Homo sapiens: one gene and its partners. The protein of the gene in region 2 interacts with the protein of the main gene of each other region in a pairwise test. Each region holds a gene or a part of one and is shown on either strand. Other genes may lie near its edges.

Region 1 (4,741 bases), on a different chromosome or scaffold from region 2:
AGTGACAGAAGGCCCGAGGAGGCCGACTGGGCTGCTGGGGCAGGGCCCAGGGAGGTGGCAGGGAAGGGTGCCTGGCTGGGCTTTGGGGCTGGTGGGATAGGAGGGTGCCCCTGGGAACACAGTGCCCCAGTGGTGCGGGCCAGGTCTGGCGCCAGGGGCAGGCAGCTAGGCAGGGAGGGGGCTGGGAAAGAACTTGGACTTCTAAAGGCGGAGGGTCTCCCTGGGCACCCTGCAGGCAGGCAGACCACGGTGTGGGGGGTGCCCCACAAGGCCCAGCCCTGGGCAAGGAAGCTTTGGAAGCAGCAAGGTGGGGGTCAGGCTACAGGTGCCCCACCTCCCCAGAGCCCTGCAGTCACGTGAGGCCCCTGTGCAGTAGAGAGCCTTTCTCCAGCCCATGCTGGCTGGGGCCGGGGCTGCCGCATCTGCCTGGAGCCTGGGCAGCACCTCCGGGACTGACCTTCGGCAGTGGCTGGGGGACTGCTTTCAGTGCCTGCTGTTCGTGACTCAGAAACAGAAGAAAAACACTGAGAAAAAGCATTAAAAATAAGCCAAAATAAGACTATTGGTAAACACCTAAATTTTTGTAAGAAAATTTAAAAATTAAAGCAGCAAAGGAACTTTTTGCTTTCTGCCACTCAGGTCTGGCACAAGTGGCTGGCTTCTCCCTTGTGTCGGGCCTCTGCGCGTCTGGGGCAGGGCCCTGGGTGGAGGTGGTCCCAGGTGCCCATCTGCTGTGTCCTGCAGAGGCTCTGTTTCTGGTCCCTGGGTGGCCCCAAACTTGTCCACTTGGGCTCACTGGTCTGTCTATCCATAGGAGTGGGCTGGCTGGGGGCTAGCCAGGCCTTGAGCCCAGGAGTAGAATCTTGGCTAGGGGCTGGTCTCGGTGCAGGTGAACTCAGCTAGCACAGGGTTGATTCCTGTCCTGGGCCTGGGAACTGGGCCCTTGGAGCCTCTGAGGTGGCTAGCAGTCTGACCCCTTGGAGGAGATGGGGACAGCTCTAGGTGTAGGTGGGCAGAAACCAGCACTGCATCCTCACTCATGGGCCAGGGAGGCAACTACAGGGATGCGGGAGCTGGTCTGAGCCATTGCCTCTTCTGTAAGCAAGGCCCAGTGGGGAGTAGGGAAGGAGATGCTTCCACTCTGTGCCACATGGGGCCCAGAGGGGCTGGTGCTGCTGCGGGGTCCACCTGTCCCCAGCGCCTGCTTGGTCAGAAAGGTGTGAATGCTGGCTGACTCCTCTTCGTTTCCCAGGCCGGCAGTCGTCCCCATGGGGCTAACAGGTGCCCCTGGCCTAGCTGCAGGAGGGCTGACCTCTGCACCACTGTGGCTGGGAGGCCAGTGGGCCAGGCGTGCCACCCAGAACCCAGCCAGCTAGGGGCCCCGCCCTTAGCGTTAGCGTCCGTCAAGGGGAGCTTTGAATGTTTGGTGCCCAAGTCAAGGGCAGCAGGGGAATGGCAGTTGAGAAGGATGTACTAAGTCGAGTTATATCTAAATATTTAGATTCTTAATTTCTATTTTATATTTTTAAAACATGATATTAGTATATAAGATAATATAGCTAGCCAGTGTTAGTAAAGAAGTCATGATTGAGTCTTAAAAAAGAACAATCCAGTGTTGCAGTTCAGAGAGGTTAGCATGTCAGGGCGCAGGCCTCGGCCGAGGTGTGCTTTGCATTTAGGACACAGCCCGGAGCCGCAGAAGGTCAGCAGGAGCACGTCTGGCACCTTCAGTACCAGGCTGGGTGAGAGAGCCCGAGAGGGGGGCCGGGGGGGCAGTCAGGGCCCTGCTTCGCTGCCTGGGCCCTTGTAGATGGCCTTCTCCAGGCCGTCCACCACCTCCCTGTATTCCAGGAACGATTGGTAGTGTGTGCACTCAAAGCAGCTGCTCCCGCGCACGTGTGCTAGGAAGTCTGGCGCACCTGGGCAGATCACGTTGTCAGCCAGTAGCACTGTCCCCTTCCGCAGCAGGCCACATTCCTGCAAACAGACCGGGGGGTGGGGGAGGTGAGGGTCAGAGGTGCCCAGAGAACCTGCCCCAAACCAGGATGGGTGCTCCTCACTAGGCCACGGCACCACGCCTGTGCCTAGCCCCTGGGGCCAGGTTTCCACTTTCTGCCCAGCGTGACTCCTGCAGGAAAGGACTGTACAAGACTTGGGTGCCACCTTCAGAACATGGGCCCCGTGAGGACAGGGACCTTTCTCTCATCAACTCCTGTATCCATCTCAGGAGTATCCATCCCTTAGAACAGCATGTGGCACACAGTAGGTGCTCAATAAATGCTAGCTGGGTGAGTGGAAACAATGGGGCCCTCAACACCCAGTGCCAGGAACTCAGGCCTATGAGGGAGAGGCACCCAAGGAGAGGGGTTGCTGGTATGGTCCCTGGAGACAATATTGGCCTGACCAGGGTGACCCTGCAGGGCTGAGGTGGGGCAGACCTCCCATCAACAAGCCTGCCCCTTGGGGTCAGTTCTGGACATCCCCAAGCTCCTGCATTTGCAGACCCCCCATCTTCACCAGTGCCTGGGCCCTGGGAGGACACAGAGTTCCTCTGCCTGGGTTCTGTGCAGAAGGAAGGAGTTGTTACTGGACACGCAGCCATAGGGCATGGCCCGTGGGGTCCACTATCGGGAGAAACCTCATAGGATGCTTGCCTATCTATGCTATCAGAAAAGGGTTTGCTTACATCACATAAACAAGAAACCTTGAGAGGAAGTGTTTGCCTATGGGGAGGAAGGACCTACCAGGGCAAGGGACACCCCAGTCACCTTGTCTTGGAAATTTGACTTAGTCACCAAACAAAAGTTAACAAGCAATCTCAAACATCTAAAGTATAATAAAATCAATTTGCAGGCAGGTGCCTTGAAACACTGGTATCCGACCCCACATGCCTCTGGGATGGGCCTGGAGAGTCCCACAGGGCTTGCAGCTGTCCTGGTGGTGGGTGGCGGTCGTTTCCAGCCTGTATGCTGCAGAGAAAGCAGGGGGCTTTCATGTGACAGTATGGACACCACACGGCTGCAAGGTCAGTGAGGTCAGGGGACAGCCCCAAGGTCCGGAGTTGAGCAGGAAGTACCACCATGAATCATGATGTGTTTTCATTTAGAAAAAAAAAAAAATGTCCTAGCAATGTCAGCTGAAAAGACGTAGAACAAAGCGCCACCCGGGAGGAGGACAATGGCCTAGGCCTTGAGCAGGGCGGCTGCCTTCCAGTCTGGGCCAGGGAATGCATGAGTGAGGGGCCTGGGCTCCTGGACTTCTCGGGTTGCGCCAGGGGACTCAGGAGCCCAATCTGGTCATCAGGGATACAGAAGACGTCAGCGGACTGAAAGACACCAGACCACTGCACCTGCACGAGTTAAACAGGAAAGAAGGAGGGAAGGGCAGAAAGGAGCATGGGTCACCTTTGGAGGCTGCCAGGGGCCCACTCCTTTACGAAACTGGTCAAGAGGGGAAAGAAGGCAGCACCTGTCCTGCCTGTCGCCCGACACTGCAAGCCTCCTACCAGCTACTCAGACCACCTGGAGAACTGGCTAAACATGCATCAGCGTCTGAGCAGGACTGAAAATCTAATGCCGTGGAGAAGCGACAGTGTCAGAGGAGCAGGTGACACTATGCTGAGGTGGTTTTCATCTGGCCCACCCTCCTTAGACTCTCCTCCCTTCAAGAGTTGGAGCCTCACAGAGGTTGCAGGGAGCCAAGATCGCGCCACTGCACTCCAGCCTGGGCGACAGAGCGAGAGACTGTCTCGAGAAACAACAACAAAAAGTTGGAGCCTCAGACCAAGCACACACCTGTACTCCCAGCACTTTGGGAGGTTGAGGCAAGAGGATCGCTTGAGGCCAGGAGTTTGAGACCAGTCTGGGCAACATAGGGAGACCCCATTTCTACAAAAAATTTTTAAATTAGCCAGGTGTAGTGGTGCATGCCTTTAGTCCTAGCTACTCAGGAGGCTGAGGTGGGAGGATCACTGGAGCTCAGGAGTTTGAGGCTACAGTGAGCTATGATGTCATCACTGCACTCCAGCCTGGGCACAGAGCAAGACTCTGTCTTTTTCTTTTTTTTTTTTTTTTTTTAAGGGGGAACTCATTCCTCTTCCTTTGGGCATGGGCTGGACTTGGTGACTACAGCAGCCCGGTGGAGAGGCCTCCTCAAAGCAGCCCTTGATTTTGAATTGCAACCTGCTCCTGAGCCCCTCACCCCTCGTGCCTCCGATGCTCACAGAACCCACTGAGGGGATGGCTAGACCCTCACAAGAGCCAGGTTGTCCCCTAACCCTCCACAAGGGGGCACAGGGCCCCAGCCCTGAGTGTGCAGATGTGCGTTTAACAAGGACACCCATTCCCAATTCATGACTTCCCACTTCATGACTTTGCTTCTTTTGAGATAATTACCAGCTTTGCGCAAGCAGCACTGAGAAAACTATTAGTTTCCTAGTTACTAAACTGCAATGTTTGCTACTTTTCTATGAAGGCAGGCCCCTGTAATTAGCACCCACATCACAGCTGCTGAAACTCGGCCGCAGTAACGCAGGCCCAGCTGTGGGTGTCTTTCCTGCCCAAGTGAAGCCCATCTGGCTGAGTGCCAGCTCTCTGCCATCAATACCCAATTGCCAGCATCATGCTCCTTTGTCAGGGGTGAGCCCCCCTCCAGCTACCCTGTCTTGGCCTGTAGGTCTCCCTCCCACCCTCCCAATGCCCACCCCCTTGGCCACTACAGGTCCTCCCTCTCCACGGCCAGG
Region 2 (7,037 bases):
ATGATACACTCACAGATAGGAGGAGACCTGTTCCTTCATTCTACCCTAATTCTTCAGAGGTTACAAGGCAATAGAATGCACTTTCTCCTTTCTTCCCTGGAGCCAAGGAGGACATGGTGTGGGAAGGCGGGGTGGTCACAGCAGGCTTCTCTCAGAACTTCCCTCTCGCTGCTTTTGGGAATCCTGCTTTTGCAAGGGGACTTCCTCTTGACTGGGGGTTACTGTAGGGAGCTGGGACCAGAAAGGCCCCAATCCTTTCCCCTGCACATGCCCATCCTCCCAAGGTCTCGGCCTGAGAACATGACTGTGTTCAGCAGGAGGCCTGGCTTAGGGAGCAGAGCCTGTGGGGGCATCTCCTGCCAGCTGGGATGGCTGAAGCCGCAGTGGGTTTTGGACACCATCTCTGAGGCTGCAGTGAAAGCCAGGAACATGTCGGTCTGCACCAGTGGGAGGAATGGTCTGAGCCAGGCCAATGCGGCTCAGCTAAAAGGTCTGGAAACGGGGCAGCCAGGTGGCATCCCTCTCCTCTGTGTTTATGCAGCATTTACCAGCAGAGGGTGGAGACAATTACCCTGAGATTGTTCACATGAAACAATGTATTTACTGGGCTGAGCACAATCCAACCCCTCAAGAAAAAAGCACAAAGGCACAGGCTCGGGGAATCAGGTTTGTGGCTCTCCAGAGGCATGCGGTGAGCAACAGTCACAGTGCTCTGAGAAGCTGAAAGAACAGGGGTGTGATTCTGAGATAAATTTGCAGGTACTTTGAGCTAACTACAAGACCTCTAGATGCCCCCAAGCAAAGGAACTTAGGAAGGCAAGGGAGTAAATCCAAAGGCTCTGGGGTCACCCTCCCCGCCCTCAAGCTAGGCCTTCTCAAGGAAGAACCTGGAGCGAGGTGTTTTCCCCTGGACAAACGTGAGTCAGTGTCCTTCGCAGGAGATAACGGGAAAGGCTCTATGCCCAGGAGCTTCAAGGGTCTCGTAAGGGCGGCGTTTGGAGGGGGTGCCCCCTGATACTGCCTGGGCCACCCTCCCTGGCTGGGGAGAGGGGTGGTGCTCGGGCTCTCCAGCCCTGGCTGGAGTGAAGGTTCTGGGTCGGCCAGCGGAAGGGCAGGTGGAGGGGCTGCCTGCACTTTCTCCTGAAGCCTCTTCTTGGCTCCCATTGCCAGTAGCCACCAGTCAGCTTTGTATTGGTGCTTTACCATCCTAAGACCACCTGGTAGCATTTAGCAATGTCCATGCAGGGCTGACCTATCTGCCACATGGTGGTGCTGCGTGGCAACCTCCAGGAAGTCCAGAGATCTAAATTCCTAAGTGACCTTCCCCGTGGGAATTGGCTAAGGAGACCTTACAAGCAGAAGGTATTTGGTGGCCCAGCGACATTTGGCACCCATGGAAAGCCTAAGATTTTGTACTTCCTCACTTTGGGACAAACAGAATGAGAGAAGCAGAACCACTGATTATGGCTGAAATCTGCTAGATATAAAGGACACACTGTCAACTGCCCAGGAGACTCCTGACATCCAAGTCAGCTGGGAAGCTCCAGAAATGTGTGGGATTCTGCTTCTGCCTTTGCTCATATGCACTGCTTTTAGGAAAGCTTATTCCATTTACTTTGGTTAAACCTTTCCAAGTGCCCATACAAATTGAGAGGAACAGAATCAAGAAAGAGCCTCCAAGTTGCTTCTTGCTGGCTCTGAGACAGATCAGATCATCCTTCATACCTCTAGTTAACACTAAGGTGAGCCAGTGGCAGGGGAAGTGATTAGGGTTTCAGAATCTGCTGCAGATCAAGGCCTTGCCCACAGAGGGTCTGGTCAGCCCTGGCTCAGACAGAGGGACCAGGGACACAAGGCAGAGGCCAGGGCTCTCTCCTGCAGTCAGAAAGCCATGGACAGCGCAGGGTGAGCGGCTGGGCTGGGGCGCCACATTCTGCTTTGGTTCCCAGACTCTTACTGATGCTGCTGCCTCCTCCTGGGATCAGGACCTTCAGGGAAGAACAAGAAGAACCATCCCCCACCCCCACCCCAGCTCCCATTCCTCGGAAAGACCAATAACTTGGAACCCATTCCATAAGCTCTTCAGCCCAAAGGCATCCCACAAGCCTGCTTTCCCTAAATGAAGATGAGACCACCAGCTGCCTGGGATGTGCCAAACCAACCACAGCTGGTGTTTTCCGCCTGTGCTCACAGCTTCACCAGCTCTTCTAGGACACCTGCAAGTGACTTGCATGGAAAATCTTGGCCTCAAAAGCAGGTGTTTCTTTTTGTTCTACGAACCCTTTCCTGCTCCATTTTCTGTCCTCATTTTTTTTCCTTCTTCATTTTAACTTCATTGATCTAGAAAACATCTATTTTTTTTTGCCTAGAAGACAAGTGAGTTTACAAAATCTGGACTAATACATTAATCAGTGAAATGAAGCCCAACATTGAATGGACTCCTGGATCACAGGTCATATGTGAAAATGTGGGCTTGCAACTGGCAGGGGTGAGCATTTCAGTGGTTAAAATACTGAGATACAGAGAAATGTTTTCTCCTATGGTTAAAAGTCCCAGACTTCCTTCCTCTCTTGGAAATAAAACTCCATCAGCCCGTGAAATAAATCAGTGATGCCATTGTGTCTCATCGCCACATGGAAAGGATCTCCTGTCATCATTGCCACTGGGTGTGCATAATTAGAGTCATTTCTTTCACCCTCTTGAGAAGAAAAGTGGAAGAAAGACCTATTTCATGAAGATGAGAAATTAACTAGAGTGGTTTGAAGAGTTGCCCGAAGTCATCTGGCAAGAGATTAGGACTGTAGTCCAAGCTGAATGTTCTCCAAATCTCTCCCAGTGGCTTGGCCAGGTGATGGTCTCCTTTCACCTTGGCCCTAAAAATCCAGCTACTTGACCTCAAAACTACACAGTAAAAATGCTAGAGGCAAGATCCACAAATGTGTCCTGAGTCAGTGGGAAAGGGCCAAAGAGGAAACAGGGTATTTGCATCATCTCAAAGTATCTCCTCAGTTGTATTTATTAATTACAATGGGAAAATCAGCAGCTTTACTGTGGAGAAAGCTGACAGGCACCACCTTAACCGAGAGATCAAGAGCAACACAACTAGCAATAAGGCATATTGGCATATGTGCCCCCTGCTATGATGTACAGGAAGGGCACATCGCCCCTGTGGCATTTTTGCCAAAAATGGATAACCTCATTCTAATCTTGAGAAAGCATCAGATGAACACAAATTAAGGGGCAGTCTACAAAATACCTGGTAAGTACTCTACAAAGCTGTCAATGTCATAAAAGACAAGGGAAGAGTAAAGGATTGTCAAAGATTGACTAAGACAATATGGGATCCTGAGCTGGATCTTTGGACAAACAAAGGACATTAATGAAAAACGGGTGAGATCTGAATCAAGTTGTAGTTAATGGCACTGCCCCAGTGTTAACGTTTTAGAGCTGTGGTTGTTCAAGACAGTAACCCTAGAGGAAGCTGGGTGTGTGGGAATTCTCTGTATTGTTTTTCCAAGTCTTCTGTAAATCTAAAATTATTTCAAAATAAAAAGTTTTAACAAAAAATCTAACCCCTAACTAGAGTAATTCCACTGGGTCCCATCAAAGGTGGTGGGATTGTGTCCGGAAACCTGTGCACACCGGATCAGTCATCAGAGGAAGGAGCAGCCTCACACGTACAAGGCCATGATGCTTCGATGGAAGGCTGAGGTTTGGCATGGACACCCCCGGATTGTCTGGGACCATCTGAGGAGATCACTGATCTGTGAGGAGGAGGAGGATGGTTGAGGAGGAAGACAGCAGCTGAGGTGGGGAGGGGGTGCTGACAAGAGGAAACACTGAAGGAAAGGATGTGGATGTGGCTGTGCCAGGAGAAGGTGGCCTGGTCCAATGCTTGGATTCTTTTTCCTCTAGTAAAGAATATACTCCAGGCCTGGCATGGTGGCTCACGCTTGTAATCCCAGCACTTTGGGTGGCTGAGGTGGGCGGATCACTTGAGGTCAGGAGTTTGAGACCAGCCTAGCCAATATGGTGAAACCCGTCTCTACTAAAAATATAAAAAGTAGTTGGGTGTGGTGGTGCGTGCCTATAATCCCAGCTACTTGGGAGGCTGAGGCACGAGGATCACTTGAATCAGGGAGGCAGAGGCTGCAGTGAATGGAGATTGTGCCACTGCACTCCAAGCTGGACAACAGAGCAAGACCCTGTCTCAAAAAAAAAAAAAAAAAAAAAAAAAAAGAGAGAGAGAACTAACTATACACACTCTGAGGCCAGAGGGCCAGGGCTGGGGTTTCAGAAAGCAGATTTCTGGACCGTGGTGTCCCCTGTCCCATTCTTTTGGGACACATACCAGGGCACCAGGGAGCTCTGCTGGCCTTGTCAGCATGGCCGTGAGCTACTGAGTGACAGGAAGCTCCCTGGCAATCACAGCGGAGCCTCTGGAATGTTTCTTCCGAAAGGAAATCTGTGCTTTGAGCCTTACCGCCAGTCAGCCTGAGAACTCACCCACAAACAGGCCAGAGTGGCTGAGAGGACCACAGATTTCATCTGCCTCGGAGGGGCTATCCTAACAATGCCCAAGTTACCTGTGATCCTGTTGGAAATGCTGAAGAGCCTGGAAGTCCTCTGTCGTTGCACAAATGGTTCCCGATAATACCGGTCCCCAAAGCACATGCCCAGTAGTTCTTTGCGAACTGTCTTGTTCCAGAGTCCATAGATCAGGGGGTGGCAGACAGCGCTGGCAAAGGACAGCCATGTGGCCCAAGTCTCCAGGCTCGGGGAGACGGAGCTTTTCCCCCAGAGGGCCTCAGAGGCGATGACAACCATGTAGGGGCCCCAGGTGACCATGAAGGCACCGAGGACCACCAGGATGGTGATGAGGGCTTTGCACTGGTTGGCCGAGTAGACCACACCCTGAAAGGCATTCCTCCTGCTGCCTGAAGAGGAGGTGGAGGTGCTGGAGTTCTTCCTCCCGGTCCTCTGAGCATCCTCCTCCACGATGACGACTGTGCCACAGTGCACCTTGCGTGCCTTGACCCTGGCCACGCGGAAGATGAAGCCATAGCACACCAGCATGACCAGAAAGGGGAAGAGGGCACACCAGATCTGCCAGAAGGCCGTGTAGCCAGGCTCCCGGTGCCAAGCAGCCACACACATCCATTTGAACTCGTCAAACTCCACGGATGACCAACCAAACAGGGGTGGCAGGCAGCCGATGAGCGAGTGAAGCCAGATGTAGACAAGTGCCATCACAGCCCGGTTCCCTGTGATCTTCATGGGGTACACCATGGGGTACAGGACAGCATAGTAGCTAGAAAAGGGATGGAGGGAGGCAAGAGAGAGAAGTCAGCGGAGAGAGAAAACCGCTGCCTTCCTGCGTCAGGGGCTCCCATGACTGGGTTGGATGTTTCTAAAAGCAGCACCTTCTCCCAAGTCTCCCCAGACAAGTTATATAGACTGCATCGTGTTCCACAGCTCTGCAGAGCTCTTTAACAGAGAAGAGCTCAACACTGGCAAGACACAGAGCTCGAACAGTCCTGTTTCCAAGTCATCACACCACAGCCCACTCATATTTGGGGGTGTGGCCAGTCTTAAGATACCTACAGAGGTCCTGAGGGATTATGCATTGGGCCAGATCAATTCTGCTGCTGCTGACAGCAGAATCATCCATTTACATCAATTTTCAGAGGGATCATTAAGAACCAGAATGATGTTGAAGGACTACGGGCTTCATTCAACCAATGGACATTTACCAAAGGCTTGCGATGTGCCAAGCACCGCGCTACCTCCTGGAAATGCAGTTGAGAAGATGTGAGGGAGGCAGACACCTGAGCCAAGTATCAGGGCCTGGAGTGGTAAGGGCCACATTGAGTCCTCACAGCAACTGTGAGCAGCGGATATGTCATTATCTTCATTTTACAGATGAGGAAACTAAAGCAGGGAAAGGCTAAATAACACACCCCAGACCCATGGGAGAAAGACAGAAAGCCAGGCGATCTGACTCTACAATCCCCAGTGCACACGCCCAGCAATTCTGTGTAAGCCTTCTTGTTCCACAGCCAAGGGGGCGGGTCCGAATCACTCAGTGCTGCTAGGTAGGAGGTGGGCCAGGAGGGCTATCCATTCAAACTGGCAGGCTTCTGGTCCAGCACAGAGGGTCACAGCAGGCTCCTGTTGGAGGTGATGCTCCAGACCCAGGTCTCACAGCGTTGGAGGCACTGACCCAGGACCACCCCAGGCAGAAAGCTAGCCTGGCGAGGTATGGAGTTGTGAGTGAGCACCAGCTCAGCAGGGAGGCTGCATGGAGCTCCACCTGGCAGGAGAGAGAGTGCAGGATGGAGAGAGGAGGAGAGAAGGAAGCAGGCCGGGTGGACGGGGCCGGGGCATGCAGAGCTAAGGACTGTAGGCCCAGCTAAGGACTGGCCCTTTAACTGGAAAGGGTGGGAGGACTCAGACCACAGGGCTGAAAGTCAACCACCACCCTCCCAACCCCGACATTTTATCCAAGGGAAATAGGATGTTCCCATGAGGGCAACATGTGTAAGGGACGGGTGGCCACACTGATGCCGCCTGGCAGGACGTTGGGAAATGACTCTGGCTATGTGCCTCACACATCGCCTGGGAAGGTGGCTCCTCCACAGGGACCGCCCTGAGTCACCCTTGGGCCCCAGCAGCTGAACTGCCACATGCTAACTGGAGGTGCTGCCTCCTTGGTCTTCCTAAGCAGGGGTGAGCCTGGGGCTGCTCTGAGCTGAGCCTTGAGCCCAGGCCAGGATCTATCCTGGAAAGAGAGCATTTCCGGCTATGCGGCCTGAGGAGAAGATTGCGCAGTGATTAGGGTGTCTATTACAGAATCACTGCACAGTGGCTGGGTAAGGTGATTACTGTCTTTCGCTGCTATCTGGGCTTGCATCTTGCAAAGGCCGTGCAGCCCAAGGGAAAAAGCATGCCTTTGGAGCTGGAAATTCAAGTTCAGATGGAGGCTCTGATGTCTATTAGCTATGTGACCTCAGCTAATTGATGTAACCTCTCAGAGC
Region 3 (7,810 bases), about 140 Mb from region 2:
ACTGGCCTCTTCCCGCCCCACTTCAGGTATGAAGCCACCAAGGCTAGTCCCTGACATGTATCAGGGAGTGGGTAGAGTGGATGAAGACTCCGATTTACAGCTCCCAGTGTTCTTGGCCTAGGCCTAAGGTAGGACCCAGGTGTTCCAGGTGCCAGAGCTCAGACCATTAGGGAAGTTCTGTCCCTGTAGCGTATGCTGGAAAGTGGCACAGTCTCTTTCCGCAAAGCAGACATAGGTGTGGGTGTGAGAGGCGGGAGGAGGAGGGGAGACGAGGGAAACTGGGGCCCCACTCACATGATGTTCACAGCCACAGCGCAGCCCGACGTGATCAGCATGGTCCCCCCGTCAATTTCATAGTCCCCAGAGATCAGCCGCTCCACAGCCAGGTACACCAGTACCCCCGTCACGACCCAGATGGACAGTACAGAGACCAGGGCTCCCAAGATCTCTGAGGAAGAACCCAACCCCAACACCCACCTTGGCATGGGCCTGGAGCTAAGGAGTCTTCCCCCTTCCTTCAGGATCCTCCCCACCCACCTCCCACACAAAGTCAGGGCCTGGGTCCCACTGGGCTCTGCTGAAGGTATGGCCGGTATGGCTGCCCCTTACCCCACCCCTCATATATCTAGGAATGTAAGAGCTAGAAGGAACTAATAAGTCATCATCTGAGTCCACCTTTTTGGTTGTACATGTAAAGAAGCTGACTTATTAAAGTATGTGCCTTTTGTTCAGCTAGTAAACTGAGGCTTCTGGGGAAGACAGGCTGGGCCATCTCCCACAAAGAGGAAGGTGACGATGCAGTCCAGGGTGAACGGAAGAGAGGTTAAAGCCTATATCTTCCAGCAGCCTTTGCTGGCCTTCCCCTCCCCCCAGAGCTGATCCACAGAGTTATGTGCAGTGTTAATGCCATTGTCATTTGTTCTTGAAGCTTGGCTACTGCACTTCTTAGGAAGGTCAACTTTGCTTCCCTGCAGACTGAGAGCTCCTGGATGACTGGGACCAGGGCTCCCCCATCAGACTAGGATTTCCCAGAGGACAGAGGCCATGGTTGACATCCTCTTCCCCCATCCAGATCACCCTCCTGGCCTCACTCAGGGGAGGAAGGGGGGATCCACCCATTACAGCCACCTAAGAACCCCTGTTCTAACCCACCCTCTCTCTCAACCCCATCTCCAGCCAAACCGCGATCCTCACCAGCTCTCTGCCAGCCAAAGTTCATGGTCTTGGTGGCTGGCCGGGAGGACATCCAGAGGGAGAAGAGGCTGATGAGCATGCTGGCAAAGTCAGTGAGCAGGTGTGCTGCGTCAGTCATGACAGCCAAGCTGTGTGCCAGGTACCCACCTGCAGGGTGGAGGGTCCTTATCAGCTCCCCCAGAGAGCTGGCTCCCAAGACTGTGTGTGCAGCAGGGAGACCACAGGCTCTGGAAGAGGACATTCTGGGCTCAAGATCTCTCTACCCATGAGCTGTACCACCGTGACAAGTGACCTACTCTCTCTGAGCCTCAACTTCCACTCTCTGTGAAATGGGCCACCAATATCTACTTAGAGGGTGAATGTGCACATCAAGTTCAAATAGGGACTGGAAAACATAGCAGATACTCAGTAAATGCTCTTCCCTTCTAGGAATTCAGGCCTTCCCTTAGCTACGAGTTGTGCGTGATCTTTGGCAAGTTACTTCACCTGAACATGCCTCAGTTTCATCATCTGTAAAGTAAGGAGAATAACGTCACCCATGTGAGAACACAGGTTGTTGTTAGACCTGCATCAGATAATGTGTATATAAAGGCTTACTGTAGTGTGTGTTCAGTAATTGGGGCTTTTAGTGTCAGTATTGCTGGGAACATCCAGTCTATCCATGCACCAACTTCATTTAATTAGCCCAAAAGTGCTTACCAACGACTTCTCCGATCATGAACAACAGGCAGATGGCAGAGGCTACATACAGCTGGCGCTGGGCCTTCCCCTTCTTGGGGTCACAGTGACTGTCAGGACCCTTCTGAGCATGGCAGTGATGGTTGCTCTGGGCAGCCAGCTCAATGGCCTGCAAGTCCAGGCCAGGTCGGGGCAGAGGAATCCAGCCAGCCCCTTCCTGCCACAGAGATCCCGTGTATGACCTGGCCAGAGGGGAAGAGAGGGAACGCTCAGCTCTGAGATGAGGTAAGGAGGGCCGACTCTAGTCCCATTTCTCTGTGAGGCCTTGTGTCCACTGGGAAAAATAGCTAAGGACGCTCCGAGCTCGACAAACCAGAGGTGAGAAGCCTGTATTCAGACGGGGATGATAGGGGAATGGGAGTCCTGGGGCCCGGGGCCCTTCAGAGGCCAGAGGAGGTGAAGACCCTGGGAACCGGCCAAGGGGCGTGCTGTCCAGTGGAGCGCGGGGAAGGAACAGAGCGCAGGCTCTGGGAGAACAGCAGGCCCCCTCCAGCGCACTTGGGACACAGGGCCTCCCCGGGGCGGGGCTGCCTGGGGCAAAGTGCTGGGCGGGGCGGGACTCCAGGCATGGGAACCGCCAATCCCCCGGCCCCAGGCCCCCCGCGGGCAGGGGTCAGAATCTGGGCTGCGCCCCAAGGGAGAGACGGTCCTTGGGCCACAGCCCATTATCTTCGTTCCCTCACCTCACCCCACCCCTCCTGCATGGTCCCAGCTCAAGCCGCAGCCAAAACCAACCACTGCTAGGATGGCAAATGCGGAGGTGCGTCGGCTGCCGCCAAAATTCCCGCCCGTCCCCAGGCTCTCGCCTTACCGGATTGCCGGCCTGGCGTCCAACAGATGCTGCTTCTCCTTGGCCTCCATGCAGTCCCGCGCCGAGTCCCGGCAGCCGCGCAGCCGCCCCGCCGAGTGCGCCCTGAAAGTTGCGCGCGGGACTCCGGGTGGCGCTCACCCACCTGCCCCGAGGGCCCCGCGAGGTGCGCTCACTCCGGCCCGGCTCCTGCGGCCCCTGAGCTCCCCCGGCTCCCGCTGCGGCTGCAGCTCCGGCTCTGGCTCCGCGTGCCAAGCGCTCCCGTGTCTCGGGTCAGCCGCTGCGCCCCGCGGCCGCCGGCTTTATCCGGCCCTCGCCAACCCGTGTGAAGCTGCCGTCGGCGCGTCGTGTGCAAAAGCCCGCGGGGAAGGGGGGGCGGTCGCCGGCTGCAAAAGGCCCGGCTGTGGCCCCGCACACCTGTGCCTGCGCCCATGGGGCCCGCGGAGCCCACCTGCCGGCCGCGAGAAGTTTGCCAGCCTTCGCCCGGCGCGGCGCCGGGTGTTGCTGAGTGAGGACGGGGTGACGCCTGCGCCCCCTCTCCCGCGCGGGGTGCGCCGCCTCGCCGCCGAAAAGTTCTCGACTTTAGTTTGTAGAAATCCGCTTTGGTGGTCCCGACGGCAGGAATGTGGCTCCTTGCCTCGGAAGAGGGTCTCCAGAGGCTACTGGGGCCGCGTCTGCCCCCTCCGACTGGCGGCTGCCCTGGGCTTGATCATGTTCCCCTCTCAGGCCGGAGACCCCCCGAGGTCGGCTTGCGTTCCTGTCCTCCTGCTAGGAGGGTCCTGGGGTGGGGTGGGCTGCGCCGCCCTCAGGCTGGGGCAGTGTCTCTCCCTAGGACCGGCTGGGACTGATCGACCCATCCTCGCCACTGAAGCAGCGCCAGCTCCTCCTCTCCTGCGCGCAGGAGAATCTGGAGTGGCCGGCTTTGTCTCCACCCGCACAGAGAACAGTGTCATCGGCAGTCACCATCGGAGCAGAGACGACCACTGCCACTGCTGCCACCCCTTCTCCCCTCCCCCGCAGCGGCTCCTGGGAGCCCCAGGAAGCCTGACAAGCAAGCCTGGGAGATGCAGGCCGGAGGTGCCACCGTGTTGGTACCGCTGGGAGAAGCCCTGTCCTTCCTGGCCAGCTTGGTGCCCCACCCACTTGAAGCAGCCTCCTTCCCTGGCGGTTCTTGGGGATTGGGGAGCCTGTGGCCCCCACGCTGGCCTCTGACAGGTGCCCTCTGTGTAGAAAGAAGCTGCTGGAGACCTCCCTGTCTGGTCAATTCGTCTCCCCAGCACCCTTTGTCGCTAGGACCATAGGCTTGGTGGGTATGGCCTTTCACAGAGCCAAGAGTCAGAGGTGCAGGCCTCTTGCCCACACCACTGGGGACAGGAAGGGGCTCTTTCAGTCTCTCATCTTGTAGGAGACGGGGTGCCAGGAGTGAGGATGTGAGGTGCACCCGCTCTGCTTGGGTCCTCACTGAGTGCCTCTCTGCTTCTCTGGACTCTGGTTTTCTTCTGGAAAACCTCAGACACCCTGGTTTTCTCCAGGTCTGTCTACTCTGAGCACCAGCAGGCTCAGCATTACCTGGAGAAGGTGTTACAACGCAGGTTACAGGTCCCTGCATCAGACCAACCGAACCAGAATCTCTGGGTGTGGAGCCTGAATATTTCCAGGATTCAGTAGGTCTGGGGCAGGGCCTGGGAATCTGTATTTATAAAATTCTCTGGTGCTATTGTGGCATCATTGTTCATTTTTATGTATAGTGGTTTTTTTGTTTGTTTGTTTTTGAGACAGAGTTTCATTTCTGTCTCTGTCGCCCAGGCTCGACTGCAATCTCAGCTCACTGCAATCTCTGCTTCCCGGATTCAAGTGATTCTCCTGCCTCAGCTTCCTGAGTAGCTGGGATTACAGGTGCCCACGACCATGCCAAGCTAATTTTTGTATTTTTAGTACAGACAGGGTTTCACCATGTTGGCCAGGCTGGTCCTGAGGTTATGATTTTTTTCAAAGAACACCTTTATCTAAAGTATTTAGGGATAAAATGTCATCTGGGTTTTGCCTTAAAATAATCCCAGTGGGGAGAGTACGGTACTGGTATAGAAGAAATAAATATGTCACCAGCTGTTGAAACTGAGTGATGGGTAAATGGGGTACACTATAACTATTCCCTCTACTTTTCAGTATTTAAAAAATGTTGGCTGGGTGCGGCGGCTCACGCCTATAATCCCAGCACTTTGGGAGGCTGAGGCAGGCGGATCACCTGAGGTCAAGAGTTCGAGACCAGCCTGGTCAACATGGCAAAACCTCGTCTCTACTAAAAATAAGAAAATTAGCCAGGCATGGTGGCAGGCGCCTGTAATCCCAGCTACTCAGAATTCTGAGGCAGGAGAATCACTTGAACCCGGGAGGTAGAGGTTGCAGTGAGCCGAGATCATGCCATTGCACTCCAGCGTGGGCAATCAAGAGTGAAACTCTGTCTAAAAAAAAAAAAAAAAAAAGTTTCAGAATTAAAGACTTGGGGAAAAATAAACCTTTCCTGGCAATTCTGATGTAGCAGCCCATGGAGCTGTATTCAAGATTCATTGAAAGAACCCCCTTGAAGCCAGCTGTCCTCTCTTGCAGCATGATTTTAAAGGAAGCATGTTGATCAAGAACCCTTCATACCATCTTAAGGGTTCTAGTTTGCAAGTACAGGAAGAGCCCTTCCTATGGCAAAGGAAAGATCCCCTTAGTTGCAATTAACAGGTATCTTCCTGGAATTTAATCTTTAACTGATTACCCAAAGTCTCAACTGCTCTCTCTTCTCTTCCATAAGTGACAAGATACGGGGCTGAAATGCTTGCTGCTTACATGATCAGTAGCCTGGAGAAGTAACAGAACATACACACGTTATAATACTGATTCTTGTGATTTCAAGGTGATGAAAACCTCTCTCTTTCTGGCCTCAAATTTCTCCTTCTGGACTCAAATCCCTTCAGTTTTCTATGGGAGGATACTTTAGGAGACCAAACCATAAAGAAAAACAAGTATGTGATTGTCAAAAAAACAAAAAAATTGACCGCTCCTCTTTCCGCTGCCCCAATCAGAAAGAGGAGCTGTGATGTGGTAGAGGGGCACATGGAGGGCTTCTGAGGGCTGGCAATGTTCTTTTTTTTTTTTCACCTGAGTGGTAGTAACATAAGGTTTCATTTTACAATAGGTTATTAAACTCTACGATGAGTTTTGTGCACTTTTAAGGGTGTGTGTGTGTGTATTACACCGTGTTTTAAAAACTAAAACAAAATGCTTCAGAACTTGAGAAAGGACTGGAAATGAGAGCAAAATCTGATTCTTTGAAATTCAAAGTTAGGAACTGAGTTAGCCTTAGAAAACCTACCAAACTCCCAGAAGTGAAAATGGGCAGAGGTTGTGAGGGTTTTTGAGCACTGTCCTAAAGCAAGTTCCACATAACTCTAGTTCCGGAGGATGTCATATGAATAAGTTGGGAAATTCAGTCCACACACACAAAATGAAAGACTTAGGGTCAGGCAGCATTCCAAGCACCATGAACTTGATGGTCCTCATCTAAAGTTAATTCGCTTTCTTTACGGTGGGACGACTCGGACCCCTTAATTTGCTACTGTGATCTGAATGTCTAAAAGGGGGAACAGGCTCTGCAATGCTCCTCAAAGTTGTAAGTCTCTGGTGTATCAGCCCCGGTGAATGCGCTGCCTCGGATTCGCTCAGCCTTGCCTCTCTCCAGGCCCTTGGCTTCTTGCTCATGGAGATCCTGGATGCTACTGGGCCACAGTCATGAATTCATCCCCTACTGCCGGTGGCTGACTTGGCCTTTCCTGGCGTGAGTCTGGGCACCAGCCTGGCCCCATTGTGTTCACTGAGGTGGAGACAGCAGCTGCCCCACCCTTGTCCAACCCAACTGGACCATGGAGGCCCTGGCACCTCCCACCATCTCCAGACTCAGCTGAAGTACCACCCAATGGGGCAGGTGACCTTGCTGCCCCTGCACCTGCACCACCTGAAGTCAAGGTGGAATGAACAGTATGGGAGGCGGGAGACAGGAAGGAGCCAGCAGACACATTTCTTTTTTTTTTTCTTCTCTAGATGAAGGACTTTGAATCATGTTCTGTTCTTTATGGCCTGCTGGAAACATCTCACATGACTAAGCAGCCAGCCCAGTCTTTGGTGAAGCTGTGGCCAGCTCAGCCACGTGACACCTTGTACTTGCTTCCCTCCTTGCCTGCCTCGCTTCCATTTTCCTTCCCTCTGTTGGCCTTGGGAGTGTGCCTCATAGGGTCTCAGAAAACAATACCCCGAAATGAAGGCCTCCCTCGGAAGCAAACATTTCTCTCTGACCTTCTCCTGCCCTCCTGTCTCTGGTCCCTTATTCTCCCCCAAGGCTAGCTATAAAAACTACAATCCCTCTTCACCAAAAGCCTGCCCTAAAACCTAAAAATATTACTCTAACTTTCCTCTTTCTTTCTGTGTAAAATTGGCCATAGGAAATTATTTGACCTTTGTCTGATTGTAGGTCAGAAGACCCCCATCCAGAGAGAGTCCTGCGCCATATGAGGAAGGAAGGAATGCTGCGCAGAGAGGCCGAAAAGAATCTTGACAGACAGGCCTCGCTGGGTTCCCCACTCAGTCTATCAGCATTAGATCAGGCTCTTTTGTCCAACCGTATTTCTACACGGCCATCCATACTTTGTTGAACTGAAGCCTAAAAATGGACAGTTTCTCCTGTATCTTTGGGTGTTCATTCTGAAGGTTCTTGTATCTCATAAAACCATGGTCAAATAAATTTGTGTATTTGTTTGCCTTTTCTCCTATTAATCTGCCTCTTTTTTTTTTTTTTTTTTTTTTGAGACGGAGTTTCACTCTTGTTGCCCAGGCTGGAGTGCAGTGGTGCGATCTTGGCTCACTACAACCTCCGCCTCCTGGGTTCAAGCAATTCTCATGCCTCAGCCTCCCAAGTAGCTAGGATTGCAGGCATGCGCCACCACGCCCAACTAATTTTGTATTTTTAGTAGAGACGGGGCTTCACCATGTTGGTCGGGCTGGTCTGGAACTCCTGACCTCAGATGATCT
Region 4 (4,581 bases), on a different chromosome or scaffold from region 2:
TTACAGATAAGGAAACTGAGTCCCAAAGATATCGTGTGACTTGCCTAAGGTCACACAGTAGTAAGTTAATTCTTCCTTGATTGTGAGAATTGAGGCTTTGGGCAGTACTGAAGAGATTATGATTATCATTACTGTTATTCTTTTCTTCTTCCAGTATATTTGCTGGGAAAATGCTTATTTGGTCTTTTTCTTGATGGGGTGAAAAAACTATGTCTAAAGTAAAAGAATACAATTTGTATTTGGCTCCTGTTGTATTTAACAGTCGTTTTAGGATGCAGGGCTTGTCATAGTGCCTATTTTAAGGCTCAAATACAGAGACTAGGCTGAAATCTCACTATTCTCTCATCAGAATAACTGGAATGCGCCCAGATACTTGGCCATTTCTAACTCTGCATTCTTTGAGCTTCCCAGGCCTTCTCTTGTGCATGTTGTATTATCTTTTCTGTCCACAAAGATTTTGAAAAATCAGCAGAGTACAAGTAGCCCCTGAAATAAAGGCATCATTCAAGGAACAAACAAGTAGAAGGAGGGATCCAATTAAAATGATGAAAATCTTTAATTTTTATTTAGTTATACTTGTACGGACACGTGTATATACAAATACAGATCGTATGGGTTTGTTTGTGTGTGGGTTTTTTTTTTTTACATTTTCTTTTACGTTTATATAATGTCAGCATTTCAAAACAGCACTCGATGAGTAAGTGCAAAGGAACTGCAAAGCAGGGCAGTACAAGCACAGGACCACACGGAGCTGGACTTCACACCCAGACGCACACACAATGAGTGGCTTCAATGGGGTGTCAAGAGTAAGCATGGAGAGCGGATTTTGACTCATGGGTAACCTCCGACATGCCAGCATCTATTAAACTGTACAGACAATGGGAGCAAGCCCATTGTAGGGAGATTTGTCTCACATCCTAGCAGCCCTGGGGCCAATGCATGGGAAAAACTCAGTGATGCCAAACCAGAGACAGACCTGCCCATTCACAGCTCTGAGGGGAAATAAAACGTGGGAGGAAGGCAAGAGACACACAAAAAATAAACATACTAAGTAAAAGGGGGGTGGTGTAGGCAAACGGGGGTGTTGGTGGAGGCGGTTTTCAAAAGAAAAGTCAGTGACCACAACTCTGAGAGCAATGAATGGAAAGGAGGAGTTGAAAACTGTTTTTCTAATTATTTGAAAATAATACAAATGGCTGCTGCCGTTGCTAAGGCACCGGAGAAAAACAGAGTCCCTGAAAATCCACAGGTACTGTGTGACTCTTCCTTTCACAACGACACAGAGAGGGAAACAGCCCCATTTAAGCTTCCTACACTGATTGGTTTGCAACCATTTCCATGAGTGAGCTGCACATGATATTGATAAAGACTCTTCCTGGGAAAAAATAAAACAGTCCATGAAAACAATCACAAACAGAAAACCAAACCAAACCAAAGTACAGAACTGTTTCTAAATTCCCTATCCTTTTCAAACCAACATGCTGGTGGAGAAGGGAGGGTGGGCCACAGGGCTCCAACATCAGACCTTGAAAACACCGAGGACAAAATATCGATCAAAAAAGTCATGTTGTTCCAGGTCCCAAGATGATGGAGTCATAAGATTGGGTGGGCAATGACCACACATGAGTCCTGTATGGAGCAGTGTCTCAGCCACTTGTGACTCTTTTTTTCAGCCATGGTACACATTGGATGTTTCAAAGCCTCAATGCATGTTTTGTATCCTGAAAGTCTATTGTTCTCACTTACAAAAGACATAAGAATCAAATTAATACTTTATTATCAAACACTATGTACAACAGAGGTTGCTAATAATACAGAATTTAAAGAACGCAGTTTTTTTTTTTTTTTTAATGTTTTACTTTTCTTTCCTCTGCCACCCAAGAAAGTACAGTACAAAACAATAGTCTAAACTAACACGAACTGTTACCTGGTCTATTAAAGGATACACGGTATCCACTAAACAGACAGATCCTTATTTCCCTGCTTGATGTTGCAAAGCCCTTGGCAACCAGGGGCAAAGGTCACTGGGGTTTGACTAACTGGGGCTGAGTGGCAGCTATGACTGTCCTTCAGATTTTTGAGTTGTTTTTGAAATTAAAAGCTTCTAAAAGTTGCATCAACATCCTCCTAAGCCCCCAGAGGATTGTAACACCACCACAAAAGGCCACCAACACTTTTTAAACAAAGTGAAAACTGTCTGACACCAATCATCTTGAAAACTCCATGGCAAGTGCATTAGCTATGATTTCATCACTTACAGGTAGAGAAGCTTACTGTCTACTGGTGTGGACACTCTTGCTATTTTCTTTATACTTAATTTGCAGTGGCAGAATGGTGAAGTAAAGGGGTCTAATTTCACTGTGAAAAAATGAAAGACAATGGCAGAGAGGGCCATGAGTAATTATTTCACCATTTGTTAGAGACAAATGCTAGGAAAACCACAGAAGTCACCATTTCTAAAATGCATTTAGCACTGCTAACATAGTTATGACTAACTGGAATCATGACAGGATCATTTGATTTCCTTGTGGTTATAGAACATGCTGTATTATTTTGGTTCTATTGATCCATTTTAGAAGGTATCTTTCTCCCCCTACCCAAATCCCACTGGACCAACAAGCCTGTAACTATTAATTAAAAAAAAAAAAGTATTTCTGCATATGACTGAGAGTACTGCATATATAAATAGCTAAAGGAAAAAGGAATTGAATGCCGTGAACTTTTGTTTTGGTGAAATGGTGGCTGCCTTCTGTGATAAGACTCTGCCACTCCAGAGGAGTTCCTTATGTCAGAGGGGAATAGGATTGATTGTATCTGTGAGGCTGGCAACCCCACACACATGGTTCCATGTGAGAACAGACTCGGCAGTGACATCCACTCCAAATGGATCAGGTAAGCCCAGATTACATTTCAACATGTGTACAACTCTCCAGGGCACAATACGTTTACAGCTGCCTTTCCTTCACATACTTTTCTAATTCAGAACTACTCACAATTCTAAGCAAATTCCCATTCACGAAGTCTGTCCATAATGCGACCTTCTCTTTTTTTAACATATACATCTTAAAAAACAAATATATAAAAAATTCTTATTTTGCTGGAATGCTTTCAATTTTTCACATTTTACATGATCATCACATTTATTTCTTATATTGAAAGGCATGGTTTCTGTTGACATGTCGTGCAAAGCCAAAAAAAAAAAAAAAAAAAGGGCTGGATTGCTTTTCAATTGGTCTAACACTTTTCCTTGTCTAGGCTTTGGATTTTAAAGTTCATGACAGCCCCACCACCAGTAGAAACCCCAAGGCTTGCATTTCCTGGTAATCGACTGGAAACGTCCCCTGTTGGCCATGCTAAGATTCCTTCAACAGGGTCATCCTGCATTTATTCTCCTTCTGCCCCACCCCCACAATGAAACAAGATAGCCCCCATATTTCTAAATGTATCAAGGGATACCACTTTTTCTCACAAGTTTAAATAGGACAAGCATATATACTCACTCTCAGCATAAAGTATATCTAAATAATGTATTTTCTATTCTAGTGGATTTTTAAAAAAATATTTTGTTAAAGTCTTTGGGACTCCATCTTGTTTATCTCCCACAGATAAACACATGTTCCCCCTACGCTTTAGGCTGTGTCAGAAAGGGAAAGAATATAAAATCAACACTTGAATTTTTTTACTCCAAACTTTGGAATTTTATTTCCAAATTTCCCTTTAGCCCTCCCAAGTAGTGCTGACTGACTCTCCTGGTGACAGGGGTTTGTGTCCGAGCCCCTGCGGTCAAGGAGTGTGGAGCAAAACGTGGGTACTAGGGTGGGAGGCGGGGAAAGGCCACAGCACACTGGCGCTCCAGCAAAGCCAAATCATGTCTCCTCTGGCCACTGCGGTCCTCTCCTTGGTACATGTCATCCCCCAGAGGAGTATCCAAAGCTATTCCACTATGCACTCATCAACCCTGGCTTGTCAGCCTTGGGGAAGGTCACTTTATTCATAAAAATGCCTCTTTGAGTTTCTTAAAAAAAAAAAAAAAAAAAAAAAAAAAAAAAAAAAAAGTTGTAGCACCATGGTGATCTGTATTCAAAGAAAAAATATCTGGTGTGCACTGCCCAGTCACCAAAAAAATTAGAGGCACTCACACATACACACCCCCAGCAAACCTGTAGTTTTCTCTGTTTTCACACCTGCTCTGTATTAGCATTCCACACCCAACCTGCCTCCTAGAAAAAAAAAAAAGGCTTCTTTTAGAGAGCACAAGTTTTGCTGTCAAGAATGCTTTAAGACAGTCATATTAAAAAAAAAAACCAGTGTCTCAACCTTTTAGAAGCCTGTTCATTTACATACTCCTATAGGAAATGGTGTAATATCGTATCTATTCTTAATACCTCCCCTCCGGACCTGACATGGTGACATGATGCCCTGCGCGATCATCTTACAGTTCTGAATGAGAAGGCATAAATATTGCATAGGAGAGCAAAACCCTCCCAGCCCTAGCCAGCGCTGGCTGCATCTGCCACTATTCTTCCTTGTCCATAGCCCGCTGACACAGTGCGCTAACGGAGGTGAGTTCTTAGAGGAGAA

Evidence for each region.
Region 1: the proteins of GPR161 (region 2) and COMT interact in binary tests that used the Homo sapiens proteins (3 or more experiments, as listed by UniProt).
Region 3: the proteins of GPR161 (region 2) and SLC30A2 interact in binary tests that used the Homo sapiens proteins (3 or more experiments, as listed by UniProt).
Region 4: the proteins of GPR161 (region 2) and EFNA5 interact in binary tests that used the Homo sapiens proteins (3 or more experiments, as listed by UniProt).

The regions. Positions count from the first base shown.
Region 1 is NC_000022.11:19,965,772-19,970,512, reverse strand, and holds the end of COMT (catechol O-methyltransferase), read right to left. Parts: exon of another isoform or gene 3,538-4,741; coding exon of another isoform or gene 3,304-3,537; intron 1,978-3,303; coding exon 1,777-1,977; 3' UTR 538-1,776; downstream 1-537. Other genes in the region: splicing regulator ARVCF, read left to right, coding at 3,304-3,537. UniProt on the Homo sapiens protein: Catalyzes the O-methylation, and thereby the inactivation, of catecholamine neurotransmitters and catechol hormones. Also shortens the biological half-lives of certain neuroactive drugs, like L-DOPA, alpha-methyl DOPA and isoproterenol.
Region 2 is NC_000001.11:168,091,922-168,098,958, forward strand, and holds part of GPR161 (G-protein coupled receptor 161), read right to left. Parts: intron 5,312-7,037; coding exon 4,587-5,311; intron 1-4,586. UniProt on the Homo sapiens protein: Key negative regulator of Shh signaling, which promotes the processing of GLI3 into GLI3R during neural tube development.
Region 3 is NC_000001.11:26,043,104-26,050,913, forward strand, and holds the start of SLC30A2 (proton-coupled zinc antiporter SLC30A2), read right to left. Parts: upstream 3,016-7,810; 5' UTR 2,794-3,015; coding exon 2,744-2,793; intron 2,115-2,743; coding exon 1,894-2,114; intron 1,342-1,893; coding exon 1,195-1,341; intron 449-1,194; coding exon 295-448; intron 1-294.
Region 4 is NC_000005.10:107,376,357-107,380,937, forward strand, and holds the end of EFNA5 (ephrin-A5 isoform 1 precursor), read right to left. Parts: 3' UTR 538-4,581; downstream 1-537. UniProt on the Homo sapiens protein: Cell surface GPI-bound ligand for Eph receptors, a family of receptor tyrosine kinases which are crucial for migration, repulsion and adhesion during neuronal, vascular and epithelial development.